2 separate regions of the Homo sapiens genome follow, and region 2 is linked to region 1. The links come from fine-mapping of genetic effects on gene expression. Tissue or cell type: tibial nerve. Region 1 holds a variant in brackets; the other region holds the start of a gene. All regions are shown on one strand. Distances are from middle to middle. Region 1 has its middle 81 kb from the start of LINC02058. Region 2 holds the start of LINC02058 (long intergenic non-protein coding RNA 2058).

What was found. PIP is the estimated chance that this variant, and not a neighbour inherited with it, causes the effect. A credible set is the group of variants that fine-mapping cannot tell apart.
Region 2: it holds the start of LINC02058, and the variant in region 1 is the best candidate, but not a certain one, in a credible set for the expression of LINC02058 in tibial nerve (GTEx, PIP 0.87).

What each region holds. Positions count from the first base shown.
Region 1 is chr5:93,018,305-93,023,698 of GRCh38, forward strand. No RefSeq gene overlaps it. Among named protein-coding and RNA genes, the nearest start is that of LINC02058, 81 kb to the left of the region's middle. The variant G/A (reference allele first, on the strand shown) is at 2,483.
Region 2 is chr5:92,936,789-92,942,182 of GRCh38, forward strand. It overlaps LINC02058 (long intergenic non-protein coding RNA 2058), which reads right to left and starts at 2,998. Exons shown (of 3, transcript XR_001742811.3): 1 at 2,683-2,998.

The DNA.
Region 1 (5,394 bases):
AATGTGGCTACAGATGTAGTTTTGAGATGAACCAAATTAAGGTTGTTGAAATTTATTCAGTCACTTTCTGCTTCTCCCACCCAAAGTCTACATGTTTCTAGTAGCAAAATGGGATCAAATGAAATATTAAATAGCCTCCTATCCACGTAGAGACTTTGAGGAGTCTAATTTAAAACAAAAGTGGGAGAGAAATGTGCAATGATAATTTTCAGGCCACTTTCTTGGGTGAAAACCAGCTGCTTTTGGTTTTGGCCTCACTCAAAGATAAGAGACATGAAATCCATCTTCATGTGGCTTCTGAAATTAAGTGACAACTCACAGCTTTTCAGAGGCAACTGGATTTCTAGCTTGCATTTTTTGCACAGGAGTCAGCCATTGCTGAGGCATGCACATTGTTACTTCCTAGAAACAGATGCTGTATGATTGCAGCAGTTAACATTTCCTGAGAGCCTACTGTGTGCCAAGCTCTCTGCTAAGAGCTTTGCAGATATCAACTCATTTAATCTCACAATGACCAATAATGTAGGTATCACTGAAACCCCCATTGTAAGAAGAAGGAAGCTGAGGCTCTGAAAGGTAAGTAATCAAACGAATCACAGATAGTGGCAACAAGCAAAGCTGAGATTCGAACTCAGAGAGTCCAACCTCAGGGTCCTCACTTAACTCTCACACTGTTGCCTCCCTTCCACTGCACTGATAGTATCAGAAACTAAGAGAAATTTTAACTGGCTTAAGTAACATAACCGAATCTAAGGAAGTAAAATTTGAAAAGAGAGGTAGCAGGATGTAACAACCAAAGCAAAGGGTGGGGATAAGGAGGCTTAGAAACAGCCTGCACAGGGAGGTTAGTTGACAGACAGCTAAAATGAAGCACACCTAAACAAGGTCAGCCAAAAGAAATATTTCAAGATATTTGAAAAGCAAAAATCAAATGACACCATAAATCTGTGAACCCCGGGAAACACAGCATCAGGGAGATGCACCCAGCATGCTACCAAAGGAAATAGAATAGCACCAGGGACACCTATGCAGGAGATTATGCTAGTGGCTACAAGAGCTTCAGACTGTAGGAGGTAAAAAATCAAGGTACCCACTGGATTGACATTGATCCTAAGCACTCAAAACCTTTTTGAAGTTTTCTTTGGAACTGTTTTCAAAGTTCATGGTGGAAAGTCATCATCCCTTGAGAGTGGATTCAATACTAAGAAACAACAAAACTTGTAGCGATTGCAGTGAAAATTGTTTAAATGACTAAGCTGAATAACATAAACAAACAAACAAAAATGGAGTGGCTGTAATATAGTCACACTTATTTTCTTGAGTGCATAATTAACAGAGTATAAAGATAGGTCCCAAAATATTTTGAGCATCAGTTTTATTGTTGGGATAAGTGGCTTTCAAAAAAAAAAAAAAAACCAGGCACTGGAATTTTTATGTTCTGGTATACTTATTTAAATATCCATTTCTTACATTTTCATAATTCATGTACACATTTGATCCCAATCTGAAGTAATTTACTAAGTAAATCTTTAAATTATTTGTTTCAGTTTCTATAAAATTAAAATTGAATTGGACTTTATTTAGTGTACAAAATTGTGTTAGTTTGCTAGGGCTGTCTTAACAAAATACCACAGACCGGGTGTCTTAACAACAGAAATTTGTTTTTTCACAGTTCTAGAGGCTAGAAGTTCAAGATGAAGGTGTCAGCAGAGTTGGTTTCTTCTGAGTCCTCTCTCTGTGGCTTATGATGGCTGCCTTTTCACTGTGTCCCCACATGATCTTTTTCTCTGTGTGGCCACGCCTCTGGTGTCTCTTCTGAGAGTCCTAATCTCCTGTTATGAGATTAATCAGATTGAATAAAGACCCACTTAACAGCCTTATTTTAACTTAATAACCTCTTTACAAACTCTGTCTCCAAATACAGTCATTTTCTTGGGTACTGGGGTTTAGGGCTTCAACATATGAATTTGGGGTTAGGGAGAAGCATAAAATTCAGCCCATAATAACAGTGGTCACCAAATAAGGAGATCCATTCTGATTTAATTTTAGGCAGGTTTAGTTTACCCAGCAAGTGATTCGTGCCACACAGGCTTAGAATATTAAAGATACATAAATAAATAAAGATAAACTGAAATAAGACTGAAAGTCATTTTAATTAAACAAATAATCCCCTAGTATTATGCTTTCAAGACACTTGCATTATTTTCTTTCTCTTTGTTTACCACATTCTGGACAAAAGACAGACCCATTGGATAGATCCTTGAAATCGCTCAAATTCTTTTTGAATGCAATTTTTGAACATAATTTTTGTCATTGAGAAGCTATGGTGTTCTGGGCACTATGGATAGATCTTTTAAATACATTACTTAATTATCAAACCAGCTTTATGAGATAGGGAATATTATCCCCATTTTACTAATAAAAAACCTAAGGGTTAAAAATTTTAAATAATCTGCTCCAAATCACATGCTAGTAAATAATA[G/A]AGCCTAGATCCAAAAACAAGTCTGCTGGTAGCCAAGATCCCTGTTTTTACCAATAATGTAAAGTACATGAGGCTCCGGTGTCATCATTCAAATCTGGTGAAACTCAGTTCCATCAGATGAGATATTTCTATGACTGTGTAACAATATCAAGGTTATGGATGATATTACAAACATTCATTCGACATATATTTATTGATTAGCTAGGATGTGTTAAGCACTGTACTAGGCACTGAGGTTAAGATGATGAACAGGACACAACCTTTCAAGAGAAAATCTGGTTTGGAAGACAAACAATTCCAAGGCACAGCAATAAAACAGAGTAAGCCCTAGAGACTTTTATTCAATCAGTTGGCCTGCCTAAGGCATTATCTGATAAAAGTATAAGAAATCTTCTGGATTATAAAATACACTAACTACAACAGCAGTTCTTCCCATAGCACATGTGAATTTCATTTTAAAATAAAAAATAATTCAACAAATGGCAAGAAATCATGCTTGCATGTTCTAAATGCACAGTTATATCACATTCTATTCCAGTAAATTTCGACAAGCCTCAGCTGAATTGTTTCATTTAACTTTTACTATAACATTTTTACAAACCACACTTTCTGATCAATGATGCTTTGGCTATGGAGCTGAGTACATGGCAATACTTATCCTTCTGTACCTTGAAATCCAGCCCTCTATTTACCAAGCATAAAGGCAAATGCCAGTTAAACTACTTTTAGTTCCATCTTTCTGATGTTCAAGTGCAGGAACAATTATCTCCATCAATATTTAATGGCCTAATCCTATGCAGACAGTGCCACAAGTGTAGGCAATAGTCCCGTTAACATGCCGTTAATTTTCAAGCATACAGGCAGAAATGGACTATACAGTTACTGAGAATGCACAGCGGTACATTTCCCTAAGGTAAAATTCTTTCCACACCCTCTGGTCTACCTTCCTTGATAATAAGGGAATTAGAAACATTTCAGAGTTGTGTTCAGTGGGTTAAGCTTGTGCACTCTTTAAAATTCATGGAGAAAATGAAGCTTTCCCAGTTTTTCCAGTTTTTAAATAACAAGGTTTGTGACTCTCTAATTCAAGCTAAATATCTCATGATCCCACCTACCCACAGTTTTGTTTGGTTTGGTTTGGTCCTTTTCTGAGTTATTGCTTTAAATAGCCATTATTACAGAACACATGTCATTGTCCAGGTACTTGAAATCTAGATTGTGGATATCAATTAGAAATATTCCTATAAAATATGAGATATTGTTGCCAATGTAACAAAAGTCATAAGAAATTTTAATGAAATACACATAGTTTTTACAACTACAACATTAACAGGGAGAACTTCAGTAACCTAAATCATTTCATTAAGAAGGCCAGAGTGTGGACTGTGTGTGATTAGCTCTCTTTTCCTTCTGTTCTCTTGAAAAGACTGAAGGCTGGAGACAGATGAGGGGCTGGGGGGTGGGTGGGGGGTGGGTAGGGGCAGGAGGGGTACCACCATATAAAACCATCCTTTGAGAGAAAAGCAACTTAGAGCGAGTGTAGGCAGAGAAATCATGATCTTTGAATCTTGATTCAAAGAGCAAGAGTAACAGAAGAAACAAAAGATCCTTCTTAATCTGTTTATTCATAAGCTAAGTACGTTCCTGGGAGCTGTATTTGAGAATAAAGTCTGCATTATCTTCCTTATGATCTCAAGGTGACCTCAGAAATTATATAACCTCCTCTAAGTCTGATACAATTAAGTTGTAAACCTAATTCGTTAAAATTGTCTACTGAATAGAAAATTTCTGCAAATTTCCCACTTAAATATAATTTAATATTAATAAAACTGTTTTTAAGATACTTGCATTTTTTTCTTCCTTTGCTGTACTTCATAAGTCTTGAGATTTTCAGGAGTTAAATAAATATCAAATAACTAGTCAACATTAAAGATCAAAGCTTAAATACATTTTCCTAAATATCAAATTAGCCATTGTTGTCCAGTTGCAGAAAGAGCAATACAGTTTGAACAGTTTGGAAATATGGTTGACTTGGGTGAACACGGTAATAGACACTTTTTACAGATTTAAGGGAAAGGGACTTCATGTCTTTATACAATTTTCTGGTTCTTGTAAAGAAAAGTGCAGAATGTCATTGTAAGAATATTTCTTGCTCCTTTGCCAAATACAGTTCTTAAGTACTATGTTTATATAACCATCTGTCATGTTTACACAGCAGAACTCAAAGACAGAAATCTCTCATTTGTCAGAAGCATGGTCATGCCCATAAGCCTATCTATTATATAAATTATTTTGGAGTAGATTAGAATCTTTCACTATGTTCATTAAATTAAAAGTAGGGTTAGGCCTAATGCAAAATGGAAAAGCAGATGACTGTTTTTAAAACCCTGCCTCCTTCCTGCTGCTCTCCATTGGGACTGCTTATTGCCTGGTATTTTTCACCGTACACTTCATCTGGATGAGGTTCCTGCCCATGGCCTTTCCTTCATTCATTCGGCAAATATTTATGAACACTCACTCTGTGTAGCTAGGTATTGTTCAAGCCAGGTATGTGGGTGTGTCAATGAACCAAACAGAGATCCCTGGCCTCCAGAAGCTTACATTCTAAGATGAGAAACAGTAAATAACTATAATAAACAAGTAAATTGTATGAGATGTTAGAAGATAGTATGGCTATGAGGGAAAAAAATAAAGCATGGTAAAGAAGATGAGTTATGGGCAAGGGATGGGGAGTGGAGAAAGAGGATTGTGCTTTCAAACAGGATGGTCAAGATAGGCCTCACTGAGAAGGTGGCTTCTGAGTAAAGAAGTTAGCCATGCAGACGCCTGGAGGAGAGTTCCTATGAGGAAATGACCTATGCCCCAAGACCATAAGGACAGGGGATGCTTGGTGCGTTCCAGGAACCACAAGG
Region 2 (5,394 bases), 82 kb before region 1:
TCAATATTCAAAAATACATAATATAAGAAAATGTTCTGTGACCAATAAATGTTCTTTGAAGACTAAAAATATCAAACTCTAACTAAAAGCCTAATATAGATTTCATCTGATAAAAAGAGTCAAAAGTAATCAGTTGTTCTCTTTCATTATGTGCCTTTGAACTACTACATTATTTTAATGTTAAAGAGTCTGTTCCTAATAGTTGCACAGTTATATGACTGCAACTTGTTTTATTTTGACTAACTCATTCTCTATGACAAGAATACTATATTCATATTATAGTACATATGTTGCATTATCAAAATATTGGCTATTGAATTTAGTACTTTATTATTTGGAAAAGATATGAAGACAGTGCTCTCTTATAAACACATTTTATTTGAAGTGACAGTTTCTGGACCCACTGGTCCAAGCAAGAACTTCATTGTTTCTGGCAAGGATCCCAGAGAAGATCTTCATAACTCAAAAACTTAAATATCACTTTTGTTTAGGATAAACCATCATAATACTGCCAAAACTGATAGAAATGCACATTACCAAAAATTAATTGTAGGAATAACAATGAATATAGTAGGTAAGAATCTATTTTCCAATTTTAAATAGACAATATTTAGAGGTTGGTTTTTACATAGAAGAGGACATTTTGCTGCACAAGAATTCTTGTCCTCTTCTATGTAAAAACTAATTTGTTTCATGTTTATTAAAGTAAAGAATTTAATGAGAACCCAAGAGCAGAGTAAATAATGCTCAGTCCTTGCTACTTTAAACAAATAAAAAAATACTGGATTAAGAAAATGTGGCACATATACACCATGGAATACTATGCAGCCATAAAAAATAATGAGTTCACGTCCTTTATAGGGACATGGATGAAGCTGGAACCCATCATTCTCAGCAAACTATCGCAAGGAAAAAAACCAAACACCAAATGTTCTCACTCATAGGTGGGAATTGAACAATGAGAACACATGGACACAGGAAGGGGAACATCACACACTGGGACCTGTTGTGGGGTGGGGGAAGTGGGGGGAGGGATAGCATTAGGAGATATACCTAATGTTAAATGATGAGTAAATGGGTGCAGCACACCAACATGGCACATGTATACATATGTAACTAATCTGCACGTTGTGCACATGTACCCTAAAACTTAAAGTATAATAAAAAAAAAACTATCAGGAAAAAAAAATACTAAAGAACAAATAAAACCAATGTACTGAAAGTCTTGAATTATAATGTTAACATAGATACTTCCTACTGCTATCACTTACCTTCTGTCAACCTCAAATTCATGTTGGTAAAATAGATTTAAATTTTGTTTGTTAAATTATTATGAAGCTAAAGGGAAACTTTGTATGCAGTGTACTGGTCTATAAGCCCTTTGAGAGCAGGGACCACGTCAGTTCATTATTTCATGCCTAGCCAAATAGTGCCTTCCACCTGGACATTATTCATTGAATATTGGTTGAATGAACAAGTAAATGGAGGAATGGATAAAATAATTAAATAGAAAGTAGAATTTAAATAATATTCTGATAAATCAGGAAAAATTGTTCATTTGTAGGAGAGGAAGGAAGATTCAAAACCCTGGGTTATTAAAATTAATTGTCCACTCTAATTGAATTCGCAGAATAACTTGACTTAAATTCACAGGTTAATTTCTCTCCAATTACAAATGCAATAATCTGCTATGGGCACAGTGCCAGCATGAACACTGGATCGCTGTGATCAGCCAGACTTAGCACTGTGTTATTTGACTTTATTTTCTTTCCCAACAGATAAGATTTATTTCTTCTCCCTGTCTAGAACTTATGTTTATGTCTGCACATCTCCATTTCCTTAAGTAACCAGTGACTTAAGGAGAATATCTCTATTTTGATCAATGCAAAATAAAATTTAATTAAAGCATGTTTAGTCCTAATTTCTGAGTAACAATTTCTTACCAATATTATAAGTTTAAAAACATTTGTAAATTAGCACAAGACATGCCTTCTAACATGTTTATTTTATTGCATTTAAACAGCTCTCTTTCTGACAAAATTCTGAAAGAAAAAATGTATAATGCTTATCTAATTCTCAAGATAATAAATTTGTGATATTTTTCCTCTTTATAATCAACATTTTTTCTCATCTTAGAAAAAAATAAAATCAATCACCAAAGGAAATAGGAATAATAATTATTAAAATATACAGAATACTACCATATAGAAACATAGATCAGGAAATGAACTAAGATCTATTTAGAATCTTAAAATTAAAGTATCATTTCCTGCCATGATTCTAGAAACTTTAAAAAATATATTTCTCTATTATCAAGTCTTGTAACTTTCATGGTCATATGGTTTTTAATTATTTCACAGCATGGCATGTTCTTAATTCTCAAGAGGCAAATAATCATGAGTTTATCTTGATTACTTTTTAAACGGCATTTATTTTGAAGAAATAAGTGAAAATAGCATATTAGTACAACATTTTATCTAAATAACATCTTGGGCATTTTCATAAACTCCAAAGACTCAAGATTTCAAGAAAAATGACATTTTACTTTTCCTCAACTATTTCTGATCATTTTCTGTAAATGTGACTCATAAAATTAATATTCATTTTCTCATTAGTGCCCTTAGTATAAAACGTTGTATTTTGGAAAATTTTAAGAGTGTAGTACAACAAGGTTTAACTTACCTTATAAGGAATTTGTTTTTGTAAACTCTTTTCAATACGACCTCACTTCTCTGGTCAAAAGCAATCCAGAGACTTCCCTCTCTTCTCTTCCTCTTCCCTGACTGCCAGTGGGTGGATGGTTTCCTCTCTGTCTGCGATAAGCACTGCAGAGGACTCTCGGAGTTTGTCCTCACTCCTGATGCCACACACCTTTTCTTGGCACTTTATCTCGTCCCAGGGGAAGATTCCTGCAGAAATTTCCTTCTCTGTAATCTCTTGACAGATGGCTCTGCTGGCAAGAACCTCAATCCTTAGGAGTGCATTAATAGGCTTTTATTCTCCCACACTGCCTTCTCACAGGTTTTATTTTTTAATTGCACATTAGTTGATACCTCATGTCCTAACAGGCCAGGGGATCATTGCACCCTTGTAATATTCCCAGCAAATCTGTTTTTCTGTTTTTTTAATTTCTATAAATTTGTGAAGCTAGTTTCTTTTTAATAGTTCATTAATTTCCTTCTTCTATTCTCAGAGGCAGTTGGGAAAAAAGGCTCAGTAATTTACTTTAAAACACAAACTGAATATTGACTTGTTCAAATACAAATAAAGTAATTTTTTATGGCTGAGAAAATTGTAAACCAGACAACCAAAATCTTTCAATTACCAGTTTTTTTGACATTACAAGTGTTCCTCTGATAAATGCTTTTGCTATGTTCTCTCTCTGTCTAGCCCCTGCTTTCTGTATCTCTCCCTCTTATTATTTTTAGGGAAATAAAATAGAAACATACTCTGAAATTAGAGGGCCAATTGTCATCTGGATGATGTTACTTAAGATGATAAAGAAAATACTCATCAAATTATCTTATCAATTTATTAATTTCATCTTAATCTTTAAATATGATGAAAATAGGGGTGATCCAAAAAAGAGACAGCAACAAAAATGCCTATAAACTTAGACAAGGAATTTCAGCCAAAATAAGGTAAAGTAAGGGGTGGCTGCAGCCATGGCTAACTGGAGCATGTGTGCCCATTTATAAAGGAAAATGTCTACTAGTCTCCAGCTAATCACTGTCTGGTGGAAATTCAAGTTCTGCATTGTAAGGCCTATCTGTTTTTCAAAAGGATCCTAATATCTGGATTTTTATATGAAATAATCTTATGCTTTTTAAATATTAGAGAACACTACAGGAGTTAATCCCAACACCTGTGGCCCAGCCTCAGCCTAAGCACTGCCACATAATGACCTCTGATCTAGAATAATATTCAAATAAAACAAACACCGTTGCTGAATCACTACCCTTCATTAATTGTGAGATCTAAGCTGTTTTCTCATAGGTGAACAGGATGGCAATAATGTAGACTAGTCAATTTTAAAAACCTATAATATCCCTTAATAAAGACCTTAGGGAAGGGTATCAACCAAAGGACGGGTAACTGATGTGGGCAAATTGTAGATCAAACGTGAATGCGAAGGGCCAGGTTTATTTAAAAATAATAATAACAAGTGATGTTATGAAGAGAGTGAGGCATTTTATCTTATCTGAATTTCTTACCCTTTACCTAGTAACAATCTTATATAGTAATTACTTTGTTCTAATTGCTAAATGCAGATTTTTAAAAATTCTCGTAATTCCATTAGTAGTAAAATGTTAGTCAACAATTTTCTAAACTAAATTTATTTATACACATACACACATTTTTATCTATCAGTACAATTTTACATGCCTATGCATTTGCATTATATATATATTTACCATTCTTTATAAAAATGATATACTGCATATATTATTTGATAGTCAATTTTTTAATTCAATATTAAATACATAATTAACTCTTTCCCATCAATAATCTTTCACAATGTGAATTTCAATGCCTACATGGTATCTCATTGTTTGGAGATAACATAATTTAACTGGCCAGTTCCCTATTACTAGGTAAATTTTCCCAATTTTTTATTCACAGTAAAGTATCTATAATTAACAACTGCTCATTGATCTTTGCGCACATCTATTATATCTTATCATATCAAAATATATCCCCATTGTTGTGCCAATTTACAGCTCTACAACTGTGATAAGCAAATTTGTTTCCCTGCATTTTCAACAAAATTGGACATAATCATTCTCTCTAATTATTTTAGGTGAAAAAATAGACTGTGTAATAATTTAAACTTTATAAAATAAGTATTGCTTTCATATATACCAGGTAAACTTTCACACATATGAGCTAGATAGTCTTTTTTTTTTTTGAGACAGAGTCTTGCTCACTGCTGCAACCTCCACCTCCTGAGCTCAAGCGATTCTCCTGCCTCAGCCTCCCAAGTAGCTGGGACTACAGACATCCACCACCACACCCAGCTAATTTTATGCATTTTTAGCAGAAACAGTGTTTCACCATGTTGTCTAGGCTGGTCTCAAACTCCTGACCTCACGTTACCCACCACCTCGGCCTCCCAAAGTGCTGGGATTCCAGGCGTGGGCCACTGCGCCTGGCCTGAATGGTAATTTTTCTTAATGTTTTTTTCTTGACTGACTGGCAGGACAGGTTTCTCTAGCAATGCCTCAGAGTCAGAAACTGTAACGGGAAGCAATGGGAACCATCCAAAGATGCCTGTGGCATGGCAGGCGAATACCTGGAAGCCTGCTAGCAGCTCTGGGCCTCTCCCTCGTTAGGTCCCTGATAAAAGGGGCTCCGATCAGACGCTTCATGCATCAGGATTGATCAAGATGGGAT